Homo sapiens: one gene and its partners. The protein of the gene in region 1 purifies or fractionates together with the protein of each later gene. This does not show direct contact. Each region holds a gene or a part of one and is shown in the gene's direction. Other genes may lie near its edges. The genes, in order: LRRC8B, CDH2, MFAP3, ANO6, TM2D3 and SUGT1.

Region 1 (5,024 bases):
ATATTATTAGAAATGAATGCATTCTGATTCTGTCATGTTATTACACACTTGGTGGCATGATTTGCATTGCCTTGCATGGAGCAGGTTCTCCACTGCTATCCTGACTCCCAGAGCACTGGGTACATCAGCAAACAGTTCAGACCTGTGACCATTCAAGAGGAATTTGGGAGACCCAGTTATAGTGTAGAATTTATTTAACCATTTGTAAAATACCTTCTAATTTGTGTCATATCTGTTTTCATATTGCTGCCTTTTATTGCTATTGCCTACTTTCATTTTATTCCCCATCTGTATTTTCTAAACTTCCTACATGCCTTTATTATGACTTAATTTCTCTGGTGTTTAAAATAATGCCTTTGGCAGACATAATAACCTATTTTTCTTTTTCTGATCATTAAGGTTGATCTTAAGTAAAATTAGGCCTAGCTCCAATCACTGATCTCTCTCCTAAGTTCTTATCACTGTGGTTCATTTAGAAATTGAACAAAGGGTAACAATAAACTCCCTGTTCTATGACTGCCTTTCCTTTAGGATTCTACTCAATTGCCACACAATTTACATTTACTCCTTCAGTGCTGCTGTGAACCTGAGTAAAGGAAATGAATAAAAATGAGTTGTCAGGGCTTCAACCTTGACCTTTCCTTTTTGCCTTTCTGACCTTTTTGCTGCTTTTGATATGGGTCATGTGATTCTGCTTGTTTCTTTCTAGACTGTATATATTTAAACTTCATCTCTTGCTTTTTTTAAATTTCAGAATCCCTTTAAATTCTTTCTTCTCATCTGTCATCCTGTGACCATTTCCAGGGCTCCATTCTGCAATGCCTATTCTTCAGCTAACAAGCACAGCATATTTCACAGACGCTGCCAGCTGCACAGCTTCTATTTCTCTTCCGTATCCAGCTCCATGCAGGTGACTGAGATCTTCCTCTGCTCATCTCTCATGGAGACCACATTCTTTATTGTTGAGTAGCATATTCCTTTTGATTTCTTCTCAGGTAGCAGATTTAAGAGCATATTCAAACTTTCCTTATTTTCTTCTGTCAAATTCCTTTTCAGCATTTTGAAACTTTTCTCTTTTCAAAATCTCTTGCAAATTACAAGCAAGAGTTCTTCAAGGTTTTACCTAAGAGAACAAACTTCATAGACTGACAGGCCTGATTCTGAACTCTGTGCCATCACTTTGGATGAGTTGTGGATTAGTTAAAATTAGTTGCCAGCTACAGAGACTGCAAAGAACAATGGCTTATTCAAAATGATGCTTGTTTCTCTTTCACATTAAACAAACTTGCAGAGAGGCATTCTATGGCTGGTATGATGGTTCTACAGTCTTCTGAGAACTAGGCTGATTCTACTTTTTGGATTATCTACCATATATAAGATGAGGCCCTCAGCTTCATGATCCCAAGATGGAGCTTCAGCCATCACCCCCAAGTTCCAAGTAGCAGAAAGGAGGAAAGAAGGAAAAAGGAAGGAGGGGAAAGGCAAGAGCCCATGGTCTCTGAAGGAAAATTCCTGGATGCTGTCATATACTTCTTGTTATATGTCATTGCCTAGAACTTAGTAACATGACCTCAGGTAGCTGGAATAGAGACTGGGAAATACTATCCTTATTCCAGACAGTCTTATTCCTAGCTAAATAAAAAAAAGTGGGAGACTCAAATCCTTAGAAAAAAGTGGGGAATTTTGGAGGTATCCAAACACCATAGCTATCCTAAATCTCTTTTTTCTTGACTAGTATTGTCTTTCTCACAGGAGTCTTAGGATTAAAATAAATGTTATACATTAACATATCTAATATAGTATCTGGCGTAAAACATGCTTTCAGTAAATCCTGTTTATATTCCTCCTTACTTCTTTTCCTTTAATTGTCTAGTTTCCCTGCTACAACATCACTGGCCCCCAAATCCTATTAATATTTTAAATACTTGGGCATTTACCCCACTTGGTGTTACGAGACTGCTGTGTTGTACCTTGTCATGGGAGGAGATGAGGTTTTTGAGTGTCAGGGAGCAAGACGTTATTACTCAATGTCAGCATTTATTCTTAGCCTAAAAACATGGCATGTGAAATCAAATAGATCTGGACACAAATCCTCCCTCAGTATGCAACCATAGTCTCTCTCTCTCTCTCTGTTTTTTTACCTGTAAACTGGATAATAACTGACCATTAGAATTGAAAGAAAAAAAGTATATAAAGTGCTTAATACTGTCCTCAGTAAAGTGGTAGCTTTTCTTTTTTAATTTGGCCTAACTTGTGTGAGCCTTTTCAAAAATCAGTACTTATTCTATTTTTTAGAAAGTTATAAAATTATCTCTAAAATCAGTTTATCACCCAAGTGACAGCAAAATTTTTTCTATATATTTTGTTATAAAATAACAAAATATGGAATGGTTAATGATACAGAATGGTTAAGCCTTAACCTTCCTCAGCCTTGAATTATTTTTGGCTGACCCACTCTCAGAAGCTAAACCTTACCACCATTTAATTTATTTCACAGTATTTTTTTTTTCAGTAGCTATTAAGCATATAGTTTGTGCCAGGCACTGTACTATATTCTGGGGATGCAATGATGATGAGCAAAAATGCACATGTTCCCCACCCTCGTGGAGATCTGGGACCATACTGGGGAGGACAGGTGAATCACTCACTCACTGCAAACAGATGAGAAGTTGTCACTGTGAGGTTGTTATAAAGGAGACATGGGTCGGGCATGGTGGCTCACACCTGTAATCCCAGCACTTTGGGAGGCTGAGGTGGGTGGATCACCTGAGGTCAGGAGTTCGAGACCATCCTGGCTAACATGGTGAAACCCCGTCTCTACAAAAAATACAAAAAAAAAAAAAAATTAGCCGGGCATAGTGGTGGGCGCCTATAGTCCCAGCTACTCGGGAGGCTGAGGCAGGAGAATGGCGTGAACCCGGGAGGCGGAGCTTGCAGTGAGCCGAGATTGTGCCACTGCACTCCAGCCTGGGCGACAGAGCAAGACTCTGTCTCCAAAAATAAATAAATAAATAAATAATAAATAAATAAATAAGAGTATATAATAATATAACTTCTCAATATGACACTCAGGAATAATCTAATTCTTTTACAGTTTATTTGGGCTATATTAGCAAACTTTAAATACAGATGCTGTCTTGATACAACAAGCAGATGCATCTGAGACAGGGCACTGTAAAGTAGGATATTTTTGTAGAGGGCCAGAGGGTTGATCTGCATCATCCTTAGCAAATGGAATTTGAAACCATATGGCTGAATGAAGAAAGACTGTTGGCAAAAAATCAGTAGCGCATAAAGCAGCAGTGGAAAATGACCACAGGATGGGAAGTATGAGCAGTGTGTTTCAGAGGGTTGGGTGACTGGACTATGCATGGGATGGCCTTCTCAAAGCGGGTGGACAACCCCAACGGCCGGTCCCTCCGTACCTTTCCATTTTGCACAGACAGGAACCAGCATGGCAGGGGGTGCTATTGACAGGTGCTTTGGGAGGTGCCGTTTCTCCTTGCCGTGTCCTGCTGAGCTATTAGGGGAGTTTGTGGGGAAACAATGCCTCTCTAATCCCTGTAACAGCCTTGGAGGATGGCAGGGAGCACTCTACTTCCATGCATCTTCCACGTATTGTGGTATTTTCCATGTATTGTGGTATGGCATGACTGAGCCTTGGGGGTTGAGCCATCAGCCATTGCACTGAAGAATGTTTCTTGCTCTGAGTGGACAAATTTAAGATAAATTCTGTTCATCTAAAGATTTTAAGTTCATTTCTTTTAACAAAACTGAGTTTATTCCTGGCCCTATTTCAATGCTAAAATAAGCAGTCCTAAGCTAAGCAATGACTTGTCTTTCAGAAGCATTTCTGAATCATGTAGGGAAGTTTAAATTTTTCCCTGAAGGTTTGATAATTTGAGTCTATGAAACAAAGTGATAATAGCTTCACAGGAAAAAAAGCCTGATAAATTTTATTATGTGCACATGTATGCACAGGAGTCATATAAAATATTTTAAAAACTCAAAGAAATGGCCAGATGGTTAATGCTTATATACCATCTTGAGGTAACAGAAAGAACAGGGGCTGAGAGCATGGCCAAAAACAGGTAATGGTGGTAAATCAGGTTATGGTGGCAAGACAGGTTATGGGAAGGAGAGAAGAGGAGGCCTGGCTAGCAAAGGTGGTCTTGTTATCTAGATGATCCTCTCTGGTAGCAGCCCTCAGATAGAATAGATGGTAAATGTTTCTTTCAGACCTTTAAAGCTGTCAGATTCTCAGTTAATCTTTCCTAGATCCAGACAGACAAGGTGGGGCCTCAGAGAAAGCCTGGCTGCATCAGTGCAGATACTCTACAGACACAAATCTCCCGAACAAATGACAGCTTTACTGGCCTACTTCTGTTTTGCCCTCCGAACAGCCATCTCAAAATATGTCAAAGAAGTATATTTTGGGGTGCAATATTTTGGTTTCCTTCAATCATAATGCAGTTTCTCAGAGGCCTAGTGTTGTGTGTGGTGGTCAGGTTCGCAGGCAATCCCAAGAGAGTTTATGTTGGCCAGTGGTGCCCTAAGGTGCCAGAGTCTTTCACCCTCCCTTTTCCTGGAATGACCTTGTAACTTGGACTTCCTGCTTCAGATTTGCCTGGGTATTTGCAGTTCCTCCCTCAGTGGCACACCAAGCTCCTTCCTACCTTAGGGGCTTCTCAGTTGCTGTTCTTTCTGCCTGGAATGCTCTTCCTTTATAAATTTCCATGACTACTTTCTTCTCAAGAGTCAGCTCAAATGTGTCCTCAGAAATACGTTCCCTGGCCACCTTAGGTAAAGTACCCATACCCCCTACCCATGTTCCCGTCATAGTCTTTCAAACCTTGGTTTATTGTTTGTTTGCTTGTTTATGCTCTATTCCCCTCACCCCCACCAGAATATAAGTTCTGTGAAAGCAAGAACTTTGTCTCCCTTGTTTAACTGCTCTTAAGCCTGGTGTGTAGTAAACGTGCCAAAACCGCTGCATGTGATAGTGGGTGAATAATATTACCTCA
Region 2 (4,856 bases), on another chromosome or scaffold:
TTAGGAGTAAAAGATTTTCTGCTGTTCTCTAATTGTAAGAAAACAATTAAAATCCACTCCTTCTGCATCAAAAATTGCTTTAAGTAAAATGAAATTCCCAGAAAGAGGGGTAGTAATGTTGGCCTTGATATGTTCAGTTCTACTGTAATGTAAGTATGGTGTACTTTTATATCCACATATGTCTTAAATCTAGATTCTAGCTGTTTCTGAAAGGAATGGATATAAATATGAAGAGGATGCTGAGCAGGAAAAACTACGCCCAGGACAACAATGCATAGTTACCTTATAGAATACCTGTTGAATGTCAGGCAGTGTGTTGGACAGTGAGATGTGAATACAAAACAGCCTCTGTAGAAAGGGATGTCACAATCTAGTGTCATCCAAACAAGATGATAAAAGTAGATGAGGCCGGGCACAGCAGCTCACACCTGTAATCCCAGCACTTTGGGAGGCTCAGGCAGGCAGATCGCTTGAGCCTAGGAGTTTGAGACCGACTTCAGCAACCTGATAAAAAAACCCTCTATACAAAAAAAAACAAAAATTAGCCGAGCATGGTGGCAGGCATCTGTAGTCCTAGCTACTCTGGAGGCTGAGGTGGGAGGATCACCTGAGCCCAGGAAGGTCAAGGCTGCAGTGAGCCATGATTGTGCCACTGCACTACAGTCTGGAGTACAGAGTGAGACCCTGTCTCTAAAAATAAAAAATAAAAAAGTAGAAGGGACCAGAGAGACCACAGGAATGACTCCTAAGTCATGGTTGGGGAAAAAAGATCTGTGCAGTCGAAGTGATATTTTTAATGAGCTTTTGGATGGATGGATGGATGGGATGGATGGATATTAATCAGATAAAAAATATAAGAAGTATAATTCTAAAAAAAATGAATAAACAACATAGAAGTGCACAAGAACATGATGCTTTGGGGTTTGGGGGGATTCCCTTTGGGGGTGCATAATTCAGTCGTGGTTGCTGGAGCTGAGAATAGCTGAAACAGAAAAGGTGGGTAAACAGTCTTGGTTCACTGAATGCTTTCTAAAGAGTTTTACTGTATGCTGTAGGTTACCCAACAGCAGGCATTTGAGTTAACACCTTCCAGTTTTTTCCCTCTCTGTGTACTTCTTGTTATTTTCTTAAACTGTTCATCAATTTTTAAGTTAATTTTCTTAAATAATTGTTTTAAAGTGTTCATGCACCAATTAAAAATCATTTTGCCCATTGTCGGGGGAACTCTTTCATTTGGAAGGAGTCATAGAGAGCAGTCAGAGGTCTTACTTGCGGGAGTGATATCAAATAACGTTTGAGACAGAAACCAATAGTTTGTAGGAAAGAAGCTGGAACAGTGCTGGAGACAGGCGAAGACCAGTTAGGCAGGCTTTTTCTCTGGTCCAGGCAAGATATAATGATGACCTCCACTAAAGCAGTGGCACTAGGACTGTAGAAGACAGAATGTAAAGGAAACAGTAAGACCTCTTTTCTTTTACATCCCTCATGTGTTCCTCGCTGGATAATGTGGGTTTTTATCCTCATAAAAGCATGTCTCCGCCCATAAAGCCTGGGATCAGAAGTCTATAAATACAAGCTCAGCAAGAATTCAGCCAGAGCCAAGCTCTCTCACTCTGCAGAGAAGCCTCAGTCTTTAGAAGACAGTTCAGCTTTATCCAGAATTCAAGATCTACCTCTCCAGGAAAGGTGGAACAAGAGGATACTTTGCTAAATTTAGTCAAACCTAGAGAAACACAGGCGTTTAGTTTGTAAATTTGGTAACAGTACATCCTGTGAAATAATGTTCATATCCAAGAATAAAGGAATCCCATAAGGGAGAACCAGAAGGTTCTGTTGCCCACTGGATTTCTTCTGTACATTCACTCAGATTTCGTGCCTGTTACTGTCAGTTTCTTAGGACTTCAGTGCGATCTTTTTAGAATTACCAAAATATTACCAAGAGTTTATATAATACCTCGTTCAGAAGAGTCATATTTTATTCTCAGATAAAAATCAGTGCTATCCAAATGGAAGGGATTTAAAGTACTTAACCTGCATAGAAAGCTGGCTTGTCTAAGAACTCTTGAAAAGTTCAGTGATTTTGCCCTTTTGTAATTATTAAAACATAAGGCAATGTGCCGTGCTCTAGCATAGCACAGTGGTCTCTCTCTAATGGATTTTATGGCCTTAACCTCTTTAAAAAAAAAAAAAAAAAAACAGAAATAAAGAAAACAGAGATTTGTAAACTACCAGGATGATCAGAAAGCCAGGGCAGGAGCTAAAAAATAAAGAAAATAATATTTTTTAGACTCTCAATAGTGGATATGGGAGTTGATTATCACAAGCATTATATTTATTTTAAGGAATTGAATTAGGTGGCTTAGTCATTTGATGAAGAGTCCTGGGGTCCGTGAACACACCAGGGAAGACCAGACCCCTTCTTGTGTTTATTCCCTGGACATAGTAAACACAGGCCATCCCTTTTTTCTCCTCCAAATTCAGACACACTTGAGGCCTTGCCATTGACCCTTTCGGGCTAATTTGAGTCTTTTTTTTTTTTTTTAACTTGTCATTCTCTTTTTCTTTCTTTTTCTTTTTTTTTTTTTTTTACTATTATACTTTAAATTCTGAGATACATGTGCGGAATGTGCAGGTTTATTACATAGGTATACACGTGCCATGGTGGTTTGCTGCATCCATCAACCCATCATCTACATTAGGTATTTCTCCTAATGCTATCCCTAATTTGAGTCTTGACCTCTCCATATTTCCAGTTTGGTGTTGACATCATAAGGATTGGGCCAGGGCTCTGTGTGTATTTTCGCTTAATAATTAAATTGTGGTAAAGCAGATGACCTGAACAAAGTGATCTTAGCCATTGTCTCTGTTGTCTGTATTATAAAGCAATTGTCATAATGAAAATTTAATATTTGTTTTCAGGGACCCATTCTCCTTATCAGGAATTTCCCTGATTTTTCTTGTTTTTTCTTCAGATCCTTCTTGGGCCTACTTGTATGACCCCAAGTCAGACAATGCTGAACTAAGGCAATCCGCTGTTGGTTAAATTTGCAGTTGCTAGATCTTGTAGGGAAGAGGAGTGTAGGCTAATATGTGAATATTAACTCCACGAGGGCAGCCATTGGATCTAGCTCATTAGTAGCTGTGTCTCTACCAGTTAGCAGAATACATTGCAATAATATTAATAGATAATCAACAAATACATCTTGAATCTAATGAATAAACACAAACAAAATGAATGAAGGTGCATTCTTCGGCTTTTGTTAGCTAAGGTACCAATCACTGACCACTCCAAAATATTGCTGCTTATAATAATGAAGGTTTACTTCTTACTTAAGTTGTAAGTCAGCTGTAGTCTGTCAGTGACTCAGTTCCTGATCCATATGTCGTCTTCGTTTCAGGATCCAGGCAGATAAACTTCCCATCTGGAGCAGGCCATTCTCCTGGCAGAGGGGGAAAGGGGGATTAGTGGAAGGGTGGAAACACATTAGATAGAGTTCTTGAAGCGGGTACTTTTCACAGCTACTTACATTGCATTGGCCAAAGCCAGTCAGACAGCCAAGCCTTACAGTGTGGTTGGGAAAGTAAACCCTGACCCCAGAGAGGCTCTGTGGGAGTGTGGGTGTGTGTTCTGCCTTCAGAAAAAGAGCAGTGAATCACTGAGGGCAGTAACACAATCTACCACAGAAGGGAGTTACAAGTTTTGAGAAATTGTAGGTTGTGGTTCTCAGTCTTAGCAGAATTGCCTTGTAGCTTAGTCTAAAAATAAGATAAAATCCTATCTAAAGTTATTTATGTTGTATATATCAAAGTATTTTGCTGAAACCTGCTTTATTTTATTTTACACAGGCTTTTCTGGAGTATAAACAGTATAAAATGACATGACGAAAAGTAGTAAAGTACTGCTAAATTTCATGGATTGTTAGTAAAGAGGTACCTGGAGATGAGAAAACTGGTCATGTGTACTTTTTTCTCTGATTTTTGACGTGAGTCAAGCAGCTGCCATTTTGTTTCTTAAAATATATCTTCATCGTTTCTTATTTTTTCAAATCCCAAGGCAGGACATTTTTCTCAAAACTTAAATTTTTTAAAAATACTAACTAATATTCATTGAGCTCTACATGTGCCAGTCACTGTGGTGAGACCTCGGGTCCCTTTATTGCATTTGGTCTTTATAATAGTCCTATTATTATGATTACAGTTGTAGATGAGGTTAAGCGGAGGTCCCACAGCTAGTACTGGGGAGAGCTAAGGTGTCATCTCACAGTCTGATCTCTTAACCACTACACCATACTGATTCTGACCTTAATTTTTTTGCTCTTCTTCCCTGTTTCTCCTTTGTAACCTTGAAAGGATAGGTGAACACATGCTCATAAAAACCCATGTATGCGCTCATAAAATGCATGTGTATTGGCAGGCTTGATCTCTCAAGGGTAGGACTGTCTGTGACACATCTTAGATAGGTGAGGCCATATAAGCCAACTAGCATTTGACAAGTAGAGTGTGGAAAAAGCAAACGATTGTTTGGAGACTAATGTTAGTGTATCTAGGAGTACTAGAATGGAATTGGGGGAAAAAATTAAGTAGAAAATATACCAGAGGACCTAATACTAAATCCTTAGAAGTTTTGCAGAGCATAGAGACTCTAATTGTATATTAAAAAGCATCTGCTTACAAAAGTTACAAATATAGATAGTAGTTATTTCCTTGTTTCTTTTTTCTTAAAATTCTTTATAAGAACCAGATAACGCATGTTATTTTAGATTGACAGGAGTCCTCCTCTTTTCAATATTTATACCGTGTACAGATATTGGATTATGACATTTCTAGGATTTTTTGGAAGTTAGAAGATACCCTAT
Region 3 (5,024 bases), on another chromosome or scaffold:
GTTCAATAACTTTTTGTGAACTTAATCTTTTTTCTCCTGCCTAACCATTTCCGCATTTATTACGTGTTTGCACATTCATCTTCACTTTTGTGGTTTTAATTTTGAGTAAAATTTAATAAAGTTGTTTCTTTTTTTAAAAAAAAAAAAGGGTCACAGGAGTGCCAGGAAGTAGAATTCTATCAGGCACCAAAGCACCATGTATGAGTCTCTCTTTGTCTTTCTCCTGCTCCTCTTCCTGTCTTCCCACTCTCTCCCTTCCCCATCCCTCTTGTCCTTTCTTACAGCTTCTCCTTGTATGTGGCCCAAACCTGACTGCCTCAGCCCCCACATGCCTCCTTTTCCTCAAATGACCCTGACCCACAAGGGTCTCAATTCCAAGTTCCAAGAACAAAGATTCTATTAGCTTACTTTGCCAATAGGTTGTCTTCCTCCTAGACCCAAGAAGATAGGGATAGGGCTCAAAGAGGGGAGCCGTTGGGTAAGTAGATCACGACAAATCTTCTCTACCACAAACTGAGGACACATACAATGTCATATCATGGTTGGGATCCAAGCTCAGTTTACAATGCCTATATGCTCCATAATATTGCAAAATATTTGCAATGAGAAAAAGAAAAATGTGAAATTTTAAATTTAAGATTAAAACTGCATAATGGTGTCCCCTTCCCCCCAACCCCCAAGATTTTTAAATGGTTGCATGGTATTCTGAGTGTTTTATAATGATGTAACTATCAAATGTAAATTTTAGTTCAATATCTGAAAGAACCATGAACAATAATAATAGAGCTTATTCAGTGATTACCATTGCCAGACTCTGTGTTTTATGTATACTACCTCATTCAGACTTTGCAATAATCCTGTGAGAATAGATTCTGTTATTTTGCCCATTTTAAAGATGAGGGGCTGAGGCAGGGAGATTAAGTCATTTATAAAAGTTGCAAGGCTGGTTAGAGTCACAGATCGTATTTGAATCCTATACTCTGAACCTCTCTGCTACCCTGCTCTTATTAGAGACCTTCAATTTTGCTGATCTAGAGTAATCTAAATCTAGAATGGAATGTGAGTGATTATATCTCTCATTGGAAATATTCAAATAGCCTGAAGCACCATTCTGCAGGTCAGTTGCAGAGGAAATTGAGGAACTGTATTAGTGGCCCTTAGATGCAGTACATGAATCCAATGCCTCAGAAACACCCAGGGAGCCAATTAAAAGTCATAAATTCCAAGGCGCAAACACAGAGTTTCTTACTCGTTCTGGGTTGGGACCTGGGAATCCATATTTTTAAAAAGCTCTCCTGACAGTTGTGATATTCAACCTGGTTTGGAAACTGCACTTGGTGATCTTTTATTCCTACCATTATCCTCTAGGACAACATGGTAAATGAAGGTATCAGGTTGGGAGTCGGAAGAATGCATTTAATTAGGTACTTTTAAGGTCTTCCAAGATTGTTAGCATTGACTGTTTTTGTTTCAGAGAATTTATAATAGGCAACTGTATGTCAGTTTGAACAATTATAATCCCTGTTGCATAACATTATTCAATTTATAAAGATCTGTCACATACTGAATCAAATTTAAACTAATCTCCATCAATATTTATTGAGCATGTGCTAGTTATGACGTACAGCAATAAAAAATATAGGCCTTGTTCTTAAGGGGTAGTTGAGATGGGATAGACTGCCTAGCAGTACAGAGCAGCATATACCAGCGCCAGATGAGTACGGTAGGTGGGGAGGGCTCTGGGGTGAAGGAGAAGCCATCCTTTATACAGCTATACTCTGAATTTATGTAGGAGGAATAGCTAAGGCCTTGATAGGAGGTTCAGGAAGTTTGCGGGAAGGCAGAATTCCATGTGGGAGTTATGCTTTGCCAAGCCTTGTGTTGGTGAGGACACTCATTGCCCTGCAGCCCTCGCCTGTGACAGCTGTTCATTCTGCTGAAGTTCCTGAATCTCAGAGCAGGAAGACCGAATCCATTTCCTTTCTTTCCAGTTTCTTCTACACTAGCTACTTTGATCCTGGGGGGATGTGACCATACCCCCAGGTGATCTGCCCACGTTTGAGCCTCTCAGTTGTTTGACGTCTTCATCATGGACGAATATCTCCCTCACTCACTTCAGCCACTGCAGCTTCCGGAGTCTATCTCCAGTTTCACCATTGGCCCAGTTAGTTCTCCTCCAGAATCAGGAATCAGACGCAGCATTTTTGGCCACTGCCTGTCTTTACCACAATTTTTTAGCTGTTTTTTGTGAACAACTCCTGACCAGTGACCCCTCTCATTTTTCCCTGTCTCCTGGCCCTCTACCTTGAGTGCTTTCCTCCCAATTTTTATTCCTCTTTATTCTTCAGGTCCTGCACCTGAAGAATAGGTGCTGCACACCTCTTTTTCTCAGAGGCTTTCCATGATGAGATTAACTCCCCATGTTGGGTCCTCCTGTAGCATCTGTATTTTCCCTTGGGTAACATTGAGTTTATTTTGTATATATGTAGTTAGTGTCCATCATCTGCCAGACTGAACTTCGTGGAGGCCGAGACAATGTCTATGGGGCAGTAGGTAGGCACATGGTAGGTGCTCAATAGATACTGTTCAGTATATGAAAATGTATCCCTCCGATCTCAAACTCAGTGGTGGGGAAGAGTAGAAAGGAAGGAGATGGCAGGTTAAGAAATGAGGTGGCATTAAAATAAACTGGAGTTGTGGGGGGCTTTTTGTTTTGGTTTTGGTTTTACTACAGAGAGAGCAAGCCTCCAGCTCAAAGCCTTTCAGCAGGCAGTAGTATCTCTGGAAGCTAATAACACTTCTTTGTTTTCATTATGTTTATGTGTACGGTTACATTTGTCCACAGAACTGATGTAGAGTTTCCTTTTTAAATAAATGTGAAAGTAAAAATAAAATGAGTTGATTTAAAAGAAAAGCAGAAATGACGATAATTTGGTTCATGGATATAGTAAAAACAACAACAACAAAAAAGACAGGAGAAGGAATGAATGAAGTTTGGGAAGTGCTGCCCTGGATGAAGCTATAGGAACTCCTAATCAAAGTTCTGGAGAAAGCCTGGAGCATTTTTTCAGCACACTCATAGCCTGTCACCGTTGAGAACCACTAATCTAGAATAAAGTACAAAATTATGTCCTCCAATTGCTGTATATCTTGCAGTGAAAAAGAGCTTGGAAACTTACATGTCAAGCCCCTAGCACAGTGCTTGGCTGATGGCAGTCATTCAATAAATGTTATTTCCATTGTTTCTACCCATCACCCCCTCTTAAAAAAGAGACTGTATTCCAAACTAGATTCTCCTACTAACTTGTAGCATGTCGTAAGAAGCAAATCACTGTGCACTGAATCAATTAGATTATATTACTTCCAAAATCCCCTCTCTGCCTAAGTCTTTGTTTCCTTTAGTGTCCTTTTTGTGCGGTTTTAGGAGGAAATGGAAATAAACACGTTTAGTGTGTCATGTATTGCCAAAGTCTGAAGGTTTTTTATTTTACTCTGTATACCCCATCCTTAAATTGTAAAGATTTAGAAAAGTATTTGTCACCATTCAACCATCCTTTCAAGGGTTAATTAATGAAAATTAAATGACATTTGCACCGTATTGTAATTTAGACTTTGAGATATTTAATGGCAAAATACAGTGATTCATTGTTTTTTATGTTCTGTGATCAAGCAGCCTTCATATAAATATAAAGGAGAGTAAATGTCATTTCCAAAACTAATTATCTTGGTGCTTTATAAGACATAAAGCTAGGCATTTCATCCCATATTTTATAGAAATAAAAGTTGAATTTTTTCTTTGAGAGTTGGTGGCTTAAAGGGGGAGTCAAATTACCAGGAAGGTGATCATAAATACATAGACTTTTGGACTAGGATGTTATTTTGCCTTTTATTCAAGATATTTTGCTCTTCTTTTAAATGTGTCTAACAATCTGTCCCTGTAGTTTTATATTTGCATTTCTACTAACTAGACACTTAAGATGTCAGTTCCTCCCTTAGCTAGTTTACAGAGTTTGAGCTAGAAATTTGGTATGCTTACAAACTATTAAATACACTGTACTTTGTCTCTTCGTATTGGAGAAACTATTAAAAGAAAATTCTGTTGTCTAATGTTCTTGCCCATGAAGGAGGTTCCATAGCTTTAGAAGTCAATAACTCTATTTATGTGTATGCAGTAAGTGCAGCTTTCTTTCCAGTGTTAAAACAACCCACCTCAGGTGTCCCTGCATTATTTATATGTAACATATCTTCATACTTGAATTACTCAAATTTTGAGCTCCATGGTTATGATTATGATATGCCAGTTGATTTACATTATAACAACAGATGGTAATGGTGCAGGTTGAAATAAAAGATCATTAAGATAAATATTTTAGCCTTCATTGGCTCCCTGTTGCATAAAATTTGTCAGAATGAAATAGAATCATGGCATTTCAGAATTGGAAGAGTCCTTAGAGATTATCTCATCCAGTCCCTTATTTGACAGAGGAGAAAACAGAAACCCAGAGAGAATGCTGCTTGCCAAGGTCGTACAGCTAGTTAGTGGCAAAGCTAGGACCAAAATCTAGGTCTGCTATTTACCAATTCATTGCTTTTTCTGCTGTCTCTGTGTGAGATTTTTAGGTACTGTTCCATCTAATTACTCCCCAATGTCAGCACCAATTATTCTAATTAACATCTATTCATTCTGGAACATACGCACTTTCACCCCATTATGAATCTCAGTTGGTTAAACTTTGTATCTGGCTTTCTTTTAGGTTCTCTACTCACATCTTTTAATCTTGAAGACTAGAAAATATAACTGGATCTACCACTTGTTTGGAAAATTTCTCTACCAAGCAATAAATTACCCGCTGTGCTTTTGTTGTAGTGTAGAAGTTTTTGAGTTCTCCAAATCTAAACAAGATTTTGTCCCATTTTCCCATGAAGCTACATTGTTGCTTATTCACTTTAGTGGCAAGTATTATTGTGCCAGCTGCTTTTGTTTTGGAAGATGTGGACTTCGACCAAATGGTTTCACTGGAAGC
Region 4 (5,024 bases), on another chromosome or scaffold:
ACAGGAGAAATGTAATGCCTTCTCTACAAGCAGATTTCTTAAAGAGCAAGAAAAACATCTTTTTTAACACTTAACTTTGGTTGCTATAATCATAGCTAATACTTATTTGGTGCTTTTCATGTATCTGAGCTTAATATTCTGTTTTTACCTGAAGTAACTCATTGAATCCTCAACAACTCCATAGGTTAGGTGCCATAGTATTCCTAATACACAAGAGAAGATATTGAAGCCCCAGTGGAGCTTGTACTCAAATAGAGAAATCTAGCCCCAGGACCATCCTGTAATCACTCCCTTTACTGCTCTCCACAGGTGACAACTGGCCTCTGTTACTATCAACAACAAGATATGGTTTGCTTGGTCCTCAGTTTCCCTTCTCTGAAACTTTTCTGTCATCACGAGCAGTCACACACCTTGAGTGCATGGTTCTGGAGAAAGTAGATGTAGGGGAAACAGTTTAAAGATGCCTCTCCAATAGTGTCTAGTACTGTGTATCAAGTAAGGAAAATTCATGGCGCCTTTAATGTGCGTCGTTGAGTGGTGAGAAATCTGCTTACTGAGAAAGTGAAAATCTCTTACTGGGGATTATGCAGTCAAAAATACAGTGGACTAGTGGCGTGAATCTTGTGGAAATACAAGTACAAATGACTGCCAGTTTAAGGTCGTAAGATCTGAGTGTGAAAAGTGTGTGAAGCTTTTATCAGCAGAGACCTGCTGCCAGTACCAACAGTTAGCTCAGGGCACCTCTGTGCCAGCTTCACTGGCAGTGCTCAGACTCTCCCCTGCTACAGTGATTAAGACAAAAGCTAGCACCTGCTGACACTTCAATTGGTGATAGCTTTTCTGTTGCAAGGAAATGTAGCTCCCTCATGGAGTATGAGTGAGCAAAAAACATTAACTCACAACTTAAATAATTTAGTAATTGTAGAAGGGATGTTTTCTTTGGTTCTACACTCATTTTTTTCCTTCTACCAGAGTATGCTACTAGTTGTTCCATTTTTATGCTGTCTGAAGATACTCTTTTTTAAATAGACTTTTTTTAGAGCAATTTTAGGTTTACAGAAAAATTGCACATAAAATAGTTTCCAGTTCCTTCCCACCACCCCCTGCACCCAGTTTCTCCTCTAGTTAATGTTTTACATATGTGGATGCGCCTTCTTTTCACTTCCATCATTCCTTTTTCTTTTTAAAAAATTTAACATGCCAGACTTTCTACCACCGCTGGTATCACTTATGTGAGATTTACATCACTTTACACACACACCTTGTTAAGTGTGAGTTCAGTTTTTAATAGTACAAGTGCAGTTATTGGTGAGTCTCATGCTACTGTGTTTGTTGTGCTTTCAGATCCTATTGATCATCGCTTCAGTTATTGGGATCATTGTCTATAGGCTCTCGGTGTTCATTGTATTTTCTGCAAAACTTCCCAAGAACATTAATGGAACAGACCCAATCCAGAAATACCTGACTCCACAGACAGCCACGTCCATCACGGCCTCCATCATCAGCTTTATAATTATCATGATTCTGAACACCATATATGAAAAAGTGGCAATTATGATTACTAACTTCGGTAAGGTCCTACTATAGCTTAGGTAACTTCTGACATATTTTTAGAACCTGCCAAAAATAGAGACTGTTATCTTTTAGGCGTTTCAATTCCAGTAGGTTACAATTTTTAGAAATTTTCAAGTGTAAACATATTTTCTCTAGCATGTATGGAAATAAATTATCTACAGCTTTGCATTAGTAAAAGGGACAAAGCAAAGACAATCATCATAACGTCCAAGCTCTCTGTAAACAGATCAGTGCTGAATAATATTTTCAATTACATTAGATCATGTACTCTATTGTTGAAAGTCAATAGTCTCTTTATTGCAAATAAGTGGAATAGGGTCATGGTTCCGGTGGCAAATATGTTCCTCGGTTGCTGAGAGGACAAGCTATCACACTGCTACGTGTCTTCCCTGTGCTGTGCTGTTCATATTAATATAATTCTCATCAGCCCTTGATTTTTTAATGTGTTTCTTCTCTCTGGCTTGTATCCCAGGCAGCTGTTTAGTGGCCAAGTTAAGTGCTTCCCACACTGCATACGTCTGAGTCGTTCCCTGAATGGCCTGCTCGGTGATCATCTAAAATGATCAAACTGATGCAAACTCCACACTAGGAGGATGACCTATTTTGTTTTTCCCAAATGCCTCTAGCAAGTTGTACCTTGGTTTGCTTGTTTTCTTCAATAGACCTACCTTATCGCAATTCAGGAAAACAAGAGAATATCATTTAGCAGGCAGTTCAAAAATAATTTTCTGTCAATTATACCCATGGCAGTTCTTATTTGATAACACTGGACTTGTAAATTTTAAGGAACAGTTGATTTTTTTGTGGGGCAGGGGGGAACATGTGGGCTATTGTATTCCTACTGTGAGGGAGAACTCATAACAATGTGCAAACTTGGAATTAACACAGTGGCTATATTAAGGAATTCAAAACAGCTTAAATGGAAACAGTGTGAATTGTATTTTTTTAACGTGTTTAACGTGTTAACTCATGTATCAGTATTTTTTATTAGAGTCTCAAAGCTGTTCACAATTTTAAAATCTTATTTCTCTTTCTTTTAACTACAGAACTCCCAAGGACCCAGACTGATTATGAGAACAGCCTCACCATGAAGATGTTCTTATTCCAGTTTGTCAACTACTACTCTTCATGCTTCTACATAGCATTCTTTAAGGGCAAATTTGTAGGCTATCCAGGAGACCCAGTTTATTGGTTGGGAAAATACAGAAATGAAGAGGTATGAATATATAATTGTATTATCTTGCCAGTTTAAGCTGAGTTTTCTCTCAGTTGCCCAAATGAATAGTTTTTTATTGTAAATTCCTTAGATTTATTTTTTAGCCTAAACAGAACAAATGTCAGAAAAATAGAATGCCTATATTTCAAGTTAGATCCATTGAATATTTAAATGGTATTTTCTTTTTAACCTTCTAGTGTGACCCAGGTGGCTGTCTTCTTGAACTGACAACTCAGCTGACAATAATCATGGGAGGAAAAGCAATCTGGAATAACATACAAGAAGTATTATTGCCGTGAGTGTTAAATTGTATAGCCATGGGTAAAAGGACAAGGGATAGAACAGCCCATCCACACAAATCATTTGCCTACATAGCCACATAGCCACATAGCTGCATGTCCACCTCTAAATGGATCAGAATCTGTTGTCATTAAAGGTCTCCAGACAACATAGTCCAACCAACAATGCAAATGTATCCAGGATCTAATAATTGTATTTTAAAACCTTCATTATATTTAATGTAAATCCCCATCTGCTAGAGTTTATACCTACTGGGCTATTGTTGGTGACTGACTAATCACAACCCTTTGAGCGACAGCACTGGTTAGAGCTGTGAACTGTGTATTTCCACAATTTCTTATATCCTCATATCCTTCTCCTCTCTTTCCTATATATTATGCATTTAAAAGTCAGTATGAATTCCAGTCACTATATTAAGTGCTATATATATATATACATCATTTAATCTACCAAACTATCCTTATTTTTATCTCCTTTTTACTAATGAAGATCTGTGGTTTAAAGAGGTTAAATGATTTACCCAGTTTCACATTAGCATTAAGAGACTACTGTAGGATTCAAATCCAGGATCCCATGAGTACAAACTTTTAAGAATAGAGGTTCTTTCATGATCCTAAGGCACTAGGATATATAATGTTTTAAGAAATAATTGTCTAAAATAATAATCACAAAGGCTTTGACTTACTGTTGTTTTCCTAAAAAATGAGAACAACAGAATAGTTGTACTTCAAATGTTAACTAAGATTTCATTGCCCTTTACAATTTTCACTTAGGCCCCCTCCACTATCAAAGTGTAAAGTCCAACACCATCTGCAATTTCTGCAAATTTCAGGGAGCTTTTTGTTTGGGTTTTCTATTGCTGCTATAACAAATTACCCCAAGATTAATGGGATAAAAATAACATGTAATATTTTATGGTCCCGGGGGTCAGAAGTCTCACTGGACTAAAATCAAGGTGTTAGTGGGGCTGTGTTCATTTCCAAGGGCTCTGGGGTGAATCTCTTTGCCTTTCCTAGCTTCTGGAGGCCACCATCTATGCTCCCTGCCTTGTAACCTCTTCTCCATCTTAAAGCCAGCAAAGTTTCGTGTTTGTGACTATCTTCTGTAGTCACCTCTCCCGCCTTCTGTCTTCTTCCCCCTGTCCTCCTCCTCTCATCTCCCCCACCACCTCTTCCCTTGTTTAGAAATAAAAAACCTCTACCTTTATAAAAAGTCTTTTATCCCACTATATAGCTGGGAATTTTTTAAAATTTATCACCCTTCTTTACAGGCTCTCGCCTCCTGCCATGTTGCCCTCTTGCCTCCATCACATACAACTTCTCTCTCCTTTCTTCTCCTACTCCTGGCTTTTTTCTCCCCAGTCACCAAGTTTCTGTTCATTCTCTTTATTGAGCAGTTAACTCACTCCGGGTTTCAGTGCCTCCTTCCAGATTTCTTTAACAGGTCTTATTCTCCATCTTCAATGGAAACTGTCAGGGTCTTTCTCTAAACAAAGATCTCTCTCCTTCCTCTTCCCCCACCCAGAAAGGGATTCTGGCTTTAGCTGTGAAATTCTTTTTTTTTTTTTATCCTACTCCGGAGAAAACAACCCTCACTTTCATTGAGCTCATATTCAGATTTTTCCAGATAAGTAAAAGTAGGTCATGCATAAATAGTACTGTGTTTCTAGATGAAAACAAATATATAAAATTGAGGAAAGTCTTAATCCATTCTGAGATTAAAAAGGGTTTTCTGAAAAAAGTAGGTTAATTATTTAACACTATGTTTCGGTAACATTGGTTTTTAGCAGCTATTTCCTAAACTGGAATTGAGAAATTCATATGAAATGAAATTTGTTCACATGAAATATTTTAAAGGATGAATTATACTATCCGTGGTTTATACTTTCACTTCAAGTAAGCTCATTGTTGAAAATTACAGTGATATGAACTTT
Region 5 (5,024 bases), on another chromosome or scaffold:
TTCAGATGAAAAGAACACGGGATTGGAAATGGAGAGATTTGGGTTCTAGTTCCAGTTTTGCCACAGACTTCCTCTGTGATTTTGCAAAACCCTACTGTAAGTTTTTTTTCAACTTACAAAATGATAGTCTTTTTTTTAAGCCCTTAATGTATACCCAGAATTTTCTATACATTATTTGTATATGAGCACCTTTAGTTTTCACGGCCACGTGGGAGGCAGGAATGAAGTAATGTTTTACAAGTGTGGTGCTCACCAGGTCCCACAGCTGGCCGTGGGCAGAATTCTGCTTTAATTGCAGGTGTCTCTGACTCCAGTCCCATGCTTCTTCCCTTCCAGTGCAGTGTCTACTTGCTAATGATCACGTCTCTTAACCTTAGAAGATTGTTCTCTGTTATTCGAATCAGTATTATAGGAGAATAAGCTTCTCTCTTGCCTCTCACAGAAAGTACTGAAATCCCACCTTATGTGATGAAGTGTCCGAGCAATGGTTTGTGTAGCAGGCTTCCTGCAGACTGTATAGACTGCACAACAAATTTCTCCTGTACCTATGGGAAGCCTGTCACTTTTGACTGTGCAGTGAAACCATCTGTTACCTGTGTTGTAAGTACTGCAGCTTACTTATTCTAAATAAATTCATTGTAAACTTTAAGTTAGAAGAACAATTCAGACTTGATTATTGGGAAGAAATTCTGAAGAATTTTTATATTCTTTTATGATTTCCCTTTTGAGTATGTAAGCAGAAATAAATTAAAAAACCCAATAGACCTTTCCATATCAGCTCACTACTGTTTTAGTTATAATGATAACTGTCAAGCCAGTTGATGTCTGCTGGAAATGCACTTGACAGAAATGTTGCTTTGTAGGACTGGAGAAGATCTCAGTCTACTAGCATATCTGAAGCAAGTCTAATTCGTTCAGATGGATTCTGTGTTCTCAATAGTGACAGCTAGTGTACAGAGGGGGTGGCAGTGTCTTTCTGCCATAGATGAGCTTTTGAAGGGCCAGTGCTTATCTGTGGTGAGAAGATGGATTCAGTAAATGCCGGAATGCCTGGTAGCTCTCTAGAACAAAATTAAGTGGAACGCCTGTCTTATCCAGAATAAATTCCAGATAGTCCAAAGATGTAATGTGAAAAATGAAACCCTGAAGTACCACAGAAAACACCAGATAGTTGCTGTTATAATCCCAAAATGGAGAATATTTTTCTAAGTATGAAATAAAGTTTAGAAGCCATAAAATAAAGAATTGATACATTTGACTCCTAAAAATTGGAGATTTCTGCATGACCTAAAAAAAAAAGCATAAAGGCAAAAGACATGGCAAACTAGGAAAAAGCGTTTCTAGAATATGTGACAAATAATACAGTAATATCAGTAATATATAAACACTTCCTAAAACCCACACGGAAAAGATGACAGTCTTGTAGAAAAACAGTGTTAGGACATGAGCAGATGGTTCATAGGAAAGGAAATACAAATAGATATATAACATGAAAAACATATAAGTTTTCTCATAGTATTTAATTAATACATTTTTAACCCTTAGATTGGCAATTTTTTTTTAATTTGATTAACTCTGAGTTTGTGAGAGTATAAGGGTCAGATGCTCATATCTTATTAATAGGTAATCAAATTGATCAACCTCTTGTAGGCGATTTGCCATATCTGTTAAACTTACACATGCACACAATCGTTGAGCTCGTAGTTGTACATGTAGGAATTTATGTTATAGATATCATTATACATGGATGCAGATAAGTGTGCTTATTTTTTAGCTGCATTGCTCATTAAAGCAAAAGATTCAAAAGAAGTGAAATGTCTAAGAACTGCTTAATTTATGGTACACGTGTAATAGAATAAACACCTTGTAGCCATTAAAAAGAACTAGGCAGCTCTAGAGGTAATGTACTGATAGATGTCCAAAATTAAGTGAAAGTATTGGGGAACATTAAATGTAGGTGACATAAATGTGCCTATGTGTAGAATCAGCTCTCTCTGGAAGCACAGAGCGTACTTGGCCTGGGGAGGGCAGGGGCTCCCGGCGGCTGGGCCAGACGAGGCCGGCTCACTTCTCACTCTCCTGTTGTGTCTTGACATGTGTTCCATGTACATGTGTCACCTACTTTTTAAAAAACCATTAAAAAAAGTGTGTTTTAAGCACATCACTGAAAATAGGCAGATGTAAACGTATTATTTTGCAGATCCAACTGTTTGCCTAAATCAAGTGATGCCTTACCCATATTTGAATGTTTTCCATAAAAAGTGGTTTTTGCATTGATAAGAAAATGAATAGTACTTGCTTCATCAGCGCATATGCCAAAGTTGGAACCATACAGAGAGAATTAGGATGGCTCTTCTGCAAAAATGACATGCAAATTTGTGAAATGTTAAAAAAAATAACAAACATGGGCCGGGCGTGGTGGCCTACACCTGTAATCCCAGCACTTTGGCAGGCCGAGGCAGGTGAATCACCTGAGGTCAGAGGTTGAGACCAGCCTGGCCAACATGGTGAAACCCCATCTGTACTAAAAATACAAAAATTAGCTGGGCGTGGTGGGGTGCGTCTCTAATCCCAGCTACTCAGGAGGCTGAGGCAGGAGAATCGCTTGAACCTGGGAGGCGGAGGTTGAAGTGAGCCGAGATTGCACCACCGCATTCCAGCCTGGGCGACAGAGCGAGACTCCATCTCAAAAAAAGAAAAAAAAATAATGTGTGTATGTGTATATATATGTATACATATATATACATGATGCTTCCAGAGATGTGTGACCACATAAAAATGATTTTGAAAAATATGCACTGCAATGTAATGTCAGGTAGAGTAAAAAGACTACAAAGTGCTTTCAGTATAATTCCATTTTAGTAAATTTATAAATATACATGTAGAAGAAACGGAAAGAAGATTAAAAGTGGTTAGCTCTGAACACCTATAGGTTTTTGTCTATAATCTTCAAATATGTAACATACAAAGAACATTCTACTTTTGTAAGCAGAATACAAAATAATGGCTTTTAAAATTGAAATGAAAAATTCTCTGGCCACCAGTGAACACTCACTGAGCCTCCACACACCATGTGGTGCTTCTGAGTTGGGCTGCCTCTGGATTAAACATGCCACATGCCCTGGTGGTAGGAGCAGCTGTAACAACCCTGAGTTGCCAGGCTGTGCAAGGTAGGGGATGTTAGGGAAGGTTGGCAACTCGGAAGCAAGGCGGTGTGTTAACCATTACAGAAGCATCAGGCTGGAGTTCAGGGACCTGGATTCCACTCCTCACTTGAAGCTCAGTGACCTTCAACAAATGCATTCATCAGTTCCTTCCAGCCATCCGTGATTGTGACTTTCTAAAATAAATTTTCCTCTTTTCTGCATTATAAAAGTATACGTTTACTATGAAAAATTTAGCTAAGCAAAAGTTATGAAATAATTATATCACCCTGAAATAACCTTTGCTATTTTGATGTGAATTTATCTAGTTTTTTCCCTTAAGTACATATGTTTGGGTGTGTAGTTTTATGATTATGAGGTCACATCATAGGCATTTGTTTTACATACATATTGTTTTGGTAACTGTTTTTCTGGCACTTACTCCTAGGTCCTAAATACAAGCATTTACGGAATTTTGTGCCATGTGACTGTGTAGTCTTACTGACATCTTAACAGACTACACCATTGTGATTGATGAGTTTTGTGTCATTTGCTACATAGGATCAAGACTTCAAATCCCAAAAGAACTTCATCATTAACATGACTTGCAGATTTTGCTGGCAGCTTCCTGAAACAGATTACGAGTGTACCAACTCCACCAGCTGCATGACGGTGTCCTGTCCTCGGCAGCGCTACCCTGCCAACTGCACGGTGCGGGACCACGTCCACTGCTTGGGTAGGTCAGAGTTCAAGGACATTTGTCAACAAAATGTTTTTCTCCAAGTTTATTGAAGGGACTTTAACCAGAAATTTGCGAGTCAAGTTACTTAATTAGAAACATTTATCAGCAGCTCTTTAGATGTGCCAAGCATCATCAATAAACTCAACGTACTAAAGTAAAGCATCCAGAAAATTGCAGTTCTTTTTAAATGTAATATTTGATAAAATAAGAAAAACATTTGAAGTATAAAGCATAATACACAGTAATTGACCTTTACCCAAAATAACAATGAAAGCAGCACCAATACCATTGCGGCCGCCTGAGTGCCTGAGTGCTTGCCTTCACCTGGTTGCCTTTCCTCCTCTTCCAAGGTAACCACCCTTTTGAATTTTTTATTTCACTTCCTTTTAAATTTTTTCTGTAGTTTTATTGTCTATATGTAATAAAATAATATTCAATAATGCATGTTTTAGAACCGTGTAAAATGATTTCAGGCTGTGTGCTCTTCTGGGACTTGCTTATTTCCTAAACATTGTGGCTCTAGGATTCATCCACGTGACTTCTCTTCTTTTTTTTACTTCTGTGTAATAATCTATTGTAAGATTGTATCACAGTTTATTCTCCAATATATTTGGTTAAGTGCTGTTTTCCGCTGTTGTGACTGTTCAAATTTCTTTGCCTGTCTCCCAATGGCACAGGTGCAAGAGCTTCTTCAGCATGTACTTTCCAGCGTGTGTCATTCTTTAAATGGCTGTATTGACTGGCATTCCCACCCGCGCTATGTAACTGTTCCTGATGAGCCATATTCTCTCCAAGAGTGGTTATTCTTAAATTTGGTCTTAAAGTTGTCTAGACTTCTTTTATATTTTGGATATTACCTGTGCTGTCCCTGAAACCCTCTCCCAGATTTTGATTTTTTTTTTTTTTGCATTATTGTATATTTTCATGAACAGAACTTTAAAAATATAATTACTGGAAGTTATTAGAGTTAGTCCTTTTTTGTGGTGGTTTTAAGAAATCTTTTTCTACCCCAGGTTAATAAAGACAATTTGCTACATTTTCTTTTGAAAGTTGTAAGTATAACATTTCACATTTAGGTTTAGAATCCACCTGGAATTGGTCCTGGTAGATGGTGTGAGGTAGATTCTACTTTAATTGTC
Region 6 (5,098 bases), on another chromosome or scaffold:
GTAATGGCATGGTCGCAGCTCACTGCAGCCTCCGTCTTCTGGGCTCAAGCAATCCTCCTTCCTCAGCCTCCTGAGTAGCTGGGACTACAGGTGTGTGCCACCACTCCCAGCTAATTTTTAAATTTTGTGTAGAGATGGGGTCTCCCTGCATTGCCCAGGTTGGTCTCTCAAACTCCTGGGTTCAAGCAGTCCTCCCACCTTGGCCTCCCAAAGTGTTGGGATTATAGGCGTAAGCCACTGTGCCCGGCTGTTTTTTGTTTTGTTTTGTTTTGTGTTTTAATTGAACGGACTGAAGTTTACTTTCTAACTAGGTTAGCCCTCCATTCATACAAAATTATGAGCCCAAATGTCTTGGGGAGAGTACAGGAGAGGCCAGATCTTAAAAGCCAGGAGTGGAATTAGGTTTGAGCATATGTAGCAATATGGAAACAAAGAGTGAGTCAATTTATAAGCATACCAATCTTCTTGGAGACAAAAGTTTGAATTGCTCACGTGTCCATTTTTTTTCTGGAATCCCTGAAGAAATTTTGAGATACTGAGTACTAGAAAACCCTCTTTGATGAGGGTTGTATACTTTATTTTTAAACAGTATCAACACCGTTGAGGCCCTTCAAGTCTTTGCAGTCAAAAGCCATACACTTTTTCTTTGAGTGAGCCTTTACTTTAAGGTATGTAGTAGAATAATATAGGTATCTGAAAAAGAACTTGGTTCATGACATCCACTCATTCATTTATGCACTTAGCAAATATTCATTGATTGCCAAATACGCATCAGACACTGAGCTAGGTGCTAGGTACTAGGTAAACAAAATTCCCTGCCTTCATGGAGCTTAGCTTGTGGTGGTGGAAAGAAGCCCTCAGCCTGAATACTCAACTTATGTCTGCCGTTTATTCCTTAACACATTAAACTATAGGTAATAGCATATGTTAGTCTAATCTTTGTTTAGCAAAGCTATTTCTTGTTCTGGAATATAAGTACAGTTACAGCAGAATAAGTACCAAGGCAAGATTGGAGAATGACCGGTTGTGAACAGGGACTTAGGAATATGTGTAGCATAGGATTTTATTTTAGAGTTGTTAAAATCAGATCAACAGAGCATGTTTTTATGGGCCATCTGACAAGACTAGAGGTAGCTTTGGAACCTCTTATTCCCTGGAATGCAAACATGTATTTGCATTTCATCCACTGTCAGTATGAGGAGACAAAAACGAAGTCAGGATTTTGGAGCTGGAATGGATCTTAAATACTATGTAGTCCAAACGTTTGGTTTTACAGATGCACTTTTTCCAGAGTGCTGTCATCTCATATACTTTTTTCTTCATACAGGTTTTTAATGTAACTCACTCAGATCGTTGGTGATAGACTCTCTCTTAAAACTTATTTATCCTAATCTTTTTTTTTTTTTTTTTTTTAAGAGACAGGGTTTTGCTCTGCTGTCCAGGCACACAATAGCTCACTGTAACCTCCAACTCCTGGAGTCAAGTGATCCTCCTGCCTCAGCCTCTCAGGTAGCTGGGACTGCACTACTAGTGCACTAAGCTAATTTTTAAATTTTTTTTGTAGAGACAGGGTCTTGCTGTGTTGCCCGGGCTGCTCTCTTAACTCCTGGCCTCAAGTAATCCTCTTGCCTTGGCTTCCCAAAGTGCTGGGATTACAGGCGTGAGCCACCATGCTTAGCTGATTTGCCCTAATCCTCTGCTGACATTCTGATATCGGACAACTAAAATTATAACATTGGGCAGCTATTTTGTATGATATATAGGGTAGTGGTTCTTAAGCTTATTGGTGAGTAACCTTCACTTGGGAAGCTTATTTTTAAAAATGTAGACCTTCATTACTTTCCTCCTGAGATTTTGAATCAGTACCTTTGAGAGAGGGTCCAGTAAATCTTTGTTTTGAATGAACTGATGGTTTTGAAGCAGGTGACCTGGAGGACTGCATGTAGAACACAGTGATGTCAAGGAGTAAAGGAGAGAACAGAAGTGAGATTAGCACTAATCACCTCTAATGCCTTATTTCCAGTAAAGTTTAGAGAAGAGGAAAAGCTACTTGGCTTGCTCCTTTGAAGGTTTTGTTTCCCTCTTAACACAGAAATTAAAAGGTAGAGGAGAGATGCTGAATGATGCTTTTTTTCTTCTTAATCTTGGGGGGTCATTATGATTAAGTTATTGAATCCATATCACCGTATGACAGCACATGATGAAAGAAAATCAAATGTTTGTTTCAATCAAAGTGAAACAAAATGAGAATAACTATTTGGGCAAAACACTTTTATCACTGCTAAGATATTACTAGAACTGAGCAGAGAAATACTCAGAGAGAGCCATGGCATAGTACTAATTAATAATGGGGTACCATTTAGCAACTGGAATATTCTCCGATGATGCCTGTTTAATTACCCATAGGTGCTAAGTGAATGTTAAAAATTACGGTGCTGGTTGAGTAGGCCGAGTAGAATTTGTGTTAGGGCACATCCCATGGAGATCTTTTTTACTGCTTAATTTTTTGGAGTTACCTCAGTAACTTAACAGGCAGGAATATGGTTTTAATGGAAAGGAAACCATTTGCCTTTAACAGCATTAGTCCCGCTAAGAGAAAGTTTTTGCTTGTCTAGTTTATTACAGGTCTTTGACTTTGTCAGTATATGGCAAATTTAGTATAAAAGATGATTAATTATCAAGGCTGATGAAATATAGGCAGCTGAAAAGAAAATTCTTAGCAATTCATACCTTAGAAGGAACCCTGAAGGACAGGACGCCATAGAAATCCTGTTTTTTTAAAAAAGTAATTTCAAGTAAGTTTGCAAATGCAATGCTAGTAAAAAGTATATAGAGGTATGTCTTTCACACTATCTTGTTACTATTAGAATTTTTGTAGCCATGTGCAGAGGAGAGAAAAGGTGTTGGATTTTCTGCAGTTCTGATTCAGTTCTAAGAATTTGGTGTGAAAAGAATGTTTGCAAAGGAGCAGGCACAAAGGTGAGAACAGGAATACGAAACACAACATCTGTAAATGACTAAATTCAGAGGGAATTTAGTGGGGCATATCTCTTAAATGGTTTTGAATAATTTGGTGTTTTAACCAATGACTTAATTTAACTTAGTGGGTATACTGTTCCCAGTCCCATTACTGATTTTTATTCCTCTGTGATAACATACACCCAAATAAAGACTGCTATGTATTTGACTTTAAAACTATAAAGATGTAAAAAAGGTTCACTAAGCCAAACACCTTAGAAAATAGCCTCAGCTATTTGCTATGTTTATATTATACCTGCATAAAAGTATTTATGTATAGATGTACTTACCTTACACAGTAAGTACCTAAAATTTGTAAATTGAATACTTTTGAATGTAAGCAGTTGAAGTAAAACCTGTAGTGAGTTCTTCAGTCAGTCAACACTAAACCTGTTTTGTAAATTTGATGCTAGTATTATACTGGACTTTCTCAAAATGAAGTACACCTATATATGCATATAGTATATGAGCATGTGTATTTGTACAAAAGCCCTTCAAAAGGAGTTCAGCTTTTATAAACACCAAAACACTCTCTGCCTGTAAAATGTTTTTGCTGAAATTTGTATCATTAACTCTCAAATTTACATCTTCATGTTTGAGATACGCTTTTAGGACTGTCTATGCATGTAGACTTTGGTCAACTCTCTCCTCCTCCCTCAATAAATCAGTTAACTTAAAAAATATATTGTGACCATTTTTATAAAATACATGTTCATAAAACAGATCAACATATTTAGCTTATACAGAAATAAAATTAAGTCAATCCACTCACAAAGAATTTCTATTTTGTAAAAATGTAGCTTGTATTTCAGTATAATAAAATCTGATGTAAGAAACTGTTGAGTGGGTTAAGTGGTTATTCTTAGTATTATATCTACTTTTTTAGTGTCACAGTTATTTGAGGTGCTGGTGGAAGGGGAGGTGTAAAAACACACAAGTTTTTGCAGCCAGAAAATGAAAACATTTTCCATGTGCTGACTAAATGGCAGCTGTCACATATTTCCTTCCATTCCGAGTCAAACTAGGACCTTGAAATCTAACTTGAGATGTTCCATCAGGATTGGTTTGTACCACTACTGAGAATTAAATGAGTATCTAATGAAGTACCAATAATACACATAAGTCTATACACACATACTAACATTTCAGTCAAGATTCAGCACAGCAAACTGGGCTGTATTTGCAACTTTTAGACTGGCCTGGTTAAAAGTAATTTGAGAAATTAGTAGTACCAAGTTGTGAAGAAATTTGTAATTCTTCCCTGTTGCCCTCTCTTCCTTTATTGAATGCTCATCTGTCCACTTCTCTTTCAAAGTAGACCCTTATTTTCATCCTTGAATACAATTTAAGTCTCCTTTGTCATTCCTATCCTTAATCCAACCTTGAATTTTTCCTCTGTTATTAAATCATCCTGATTTTTTCTGTTAAATTGATGTCCTTGGGTATTTAGTGACGTTTCATAACACAACATAATCCCTTGGCCTGTTAGAAGTAAATTACGCACCTCCTATATTTTCATCTAATTATGAAGCTTTGAAAGGGAGCATCTTTTCAAAAGTCAGCCTTCCCTTATGACCTGCTGTCCTTATTAAGATGCCTCTTTGGCCTGTATGGCACCTGCTCAGTTTTCACATGGGAAGCTACCAAGGGGGATTCATCTAAGGTGAAAACTTAACCAGCTCCCTCCTTGCCTGCAACTTTTCATTTCCTATTTCCTACACACACACAGACACACACACACACACACACACACTCCCCAGATTAACATGCCACTTAAAGCTTCTGCCTACATTTTCATCTTGATATTTCCTACCCCGACCTGAATGCTGTTTTCCTGCTTGTACCATGCAGCTTCACTTCACACCTCTGGTCTTACTCAAACTCCCTCTGCCTGGAATGCAAATCTTCTGTCACCTTCACTTGGCTAATTCCTGCTCATCCTTGAAAATCTAGAGAGTAGACATTCTCCAAGAAGCCCATTGCTTCCATCTTTATCAAGGCTTTGTCTGGTGTGCCTTGATTATCTGTATCTCTCATAAGACCATATGCTCTTCTGGGCTGGGATCACTAAATCATTCTC

The links.
Region 2: the proteins of LRRC8B (region 1) and CDH2 purify together in Homo sapiens (co-immunoprecipitation; one large-scale study listed by IntAct). This does not show direct contact.
Region 3: the proteins of LRRC8B (region 1) and MFAP3 purify together in Homo sapiens (affinity purification with mass spectrometry; one large-scale study listed by BioGRID and IntAct). This does not show direct contact.
Region 4: the proteins of LRRC8B (region 1) and ANO6 purify together in Homo sapiens (affinity purification with mass spectrometry; 2 studies listed by BioGRID and IntAct, with this or other methods). This does not show direct contact.
Region 5: the proteins of LRRC8B (region 1) and TM2D3 purify together in Homo sapiens (affinity purification with mass spectrometry; 2 studies listed by BioGRID and IntAct, with this or other methods). This does not show direct contact.
Region 6: the proteins of LRRC8B (region 1) and SUGT1 purify together in Homo sapiens (affinity purification with mass spectrometry; 2 studies listed by BioGRID and IntAct, with this or other methods). This does not show direct contact.

What each region holds. Positions count from the first base shown.
Region 1 is NC_000001.11:89,527,365-89,532,388, forward strand, and holds part of LRRC8B (volume-regulated anion channel subunit LRRC8B), read left to right. Parts: intron 1-5,024. UniProt on the Homo sapiens protein: Non-essential component of the volume-regulated anion channel (VRAC, also named VSOAC channel), an anion channel required to maintain a constant cell volume in response to extracellular or intracellular osmotic changes.
Region 2 is NC_000018.10:27,953,102-27,957,957, reverse strand, and holds part of CDH2 (cadherin-2 isoform 1 preproprotein), read left to right. Parts: intron 1-3,330; exon of another isoform or gene 3,331-3,440; intron 3,441-4,856. UniProt on the Homo sapiens protein: Calcium-dependent cell adhesion protein; preferentially mediates homotypic cell-cell adhesion by dimerization with a CDH2 chain from another cell. Cadherins may thus contribute to the sorting of heterogeneous cell types.
Region 3 is NC_000005.10:154,044,803-154,049,826, forward strand, and holds part of MFAP3 (microfibril-associated glycoprotein 3 isoform 1 precursor), read left to right. Parts: intron 1-4,754; 5' UTR 4,755-4,920; coding exon 4,921-5,024. UniProt on the Homo sapiens protein: Component of the elastin-associated microfibrils.
Region 4 is NC_000012.12:45,400,451-45,405,474, forward strand, and holds part of ANO6 (anoctamin-6), read left to right. Parts: intron 1-1,344; coding exon 1,345-1,570; intron 1,571-2,621; coding exon 2,622-2,791; intron 2,792-2,988; coding exon 2,989-3,086; intron 3,087-5,024. UniProt on the Homo sapiens protein: Small-conductance calcium-activated nonselective cation (SCAN) channel which acts as a regulator of phospholipid scrambling in platelets and osteoblasts.
Region 5 is NC_000015.10:101,645,580-101,650,603, reverse strand, and holds part of TM2D3 (TM2 domain-containing protein 3 isoform a precursor), read left to right. Parts: intron 1-442; coding exon 443-600; intron 601-3,704; coding exon 3,705-3,879; intron 3,880-5,024. UniProt on the Homo sapiens protein: Probable positive regulator of Notch signaling.
Region 6 is NC_000013.11:52,697,056-52,702,153, forward strand, and holds the end of SUGT1 (protein SGT1 homolog), read left to right. Parts: 3' UTR 1-3,854; downstream 3,855-5,098. UniProt on the Homo sapiens protein: May play a role in ubiquitination and subsequent proteasomal degradation of target proteins.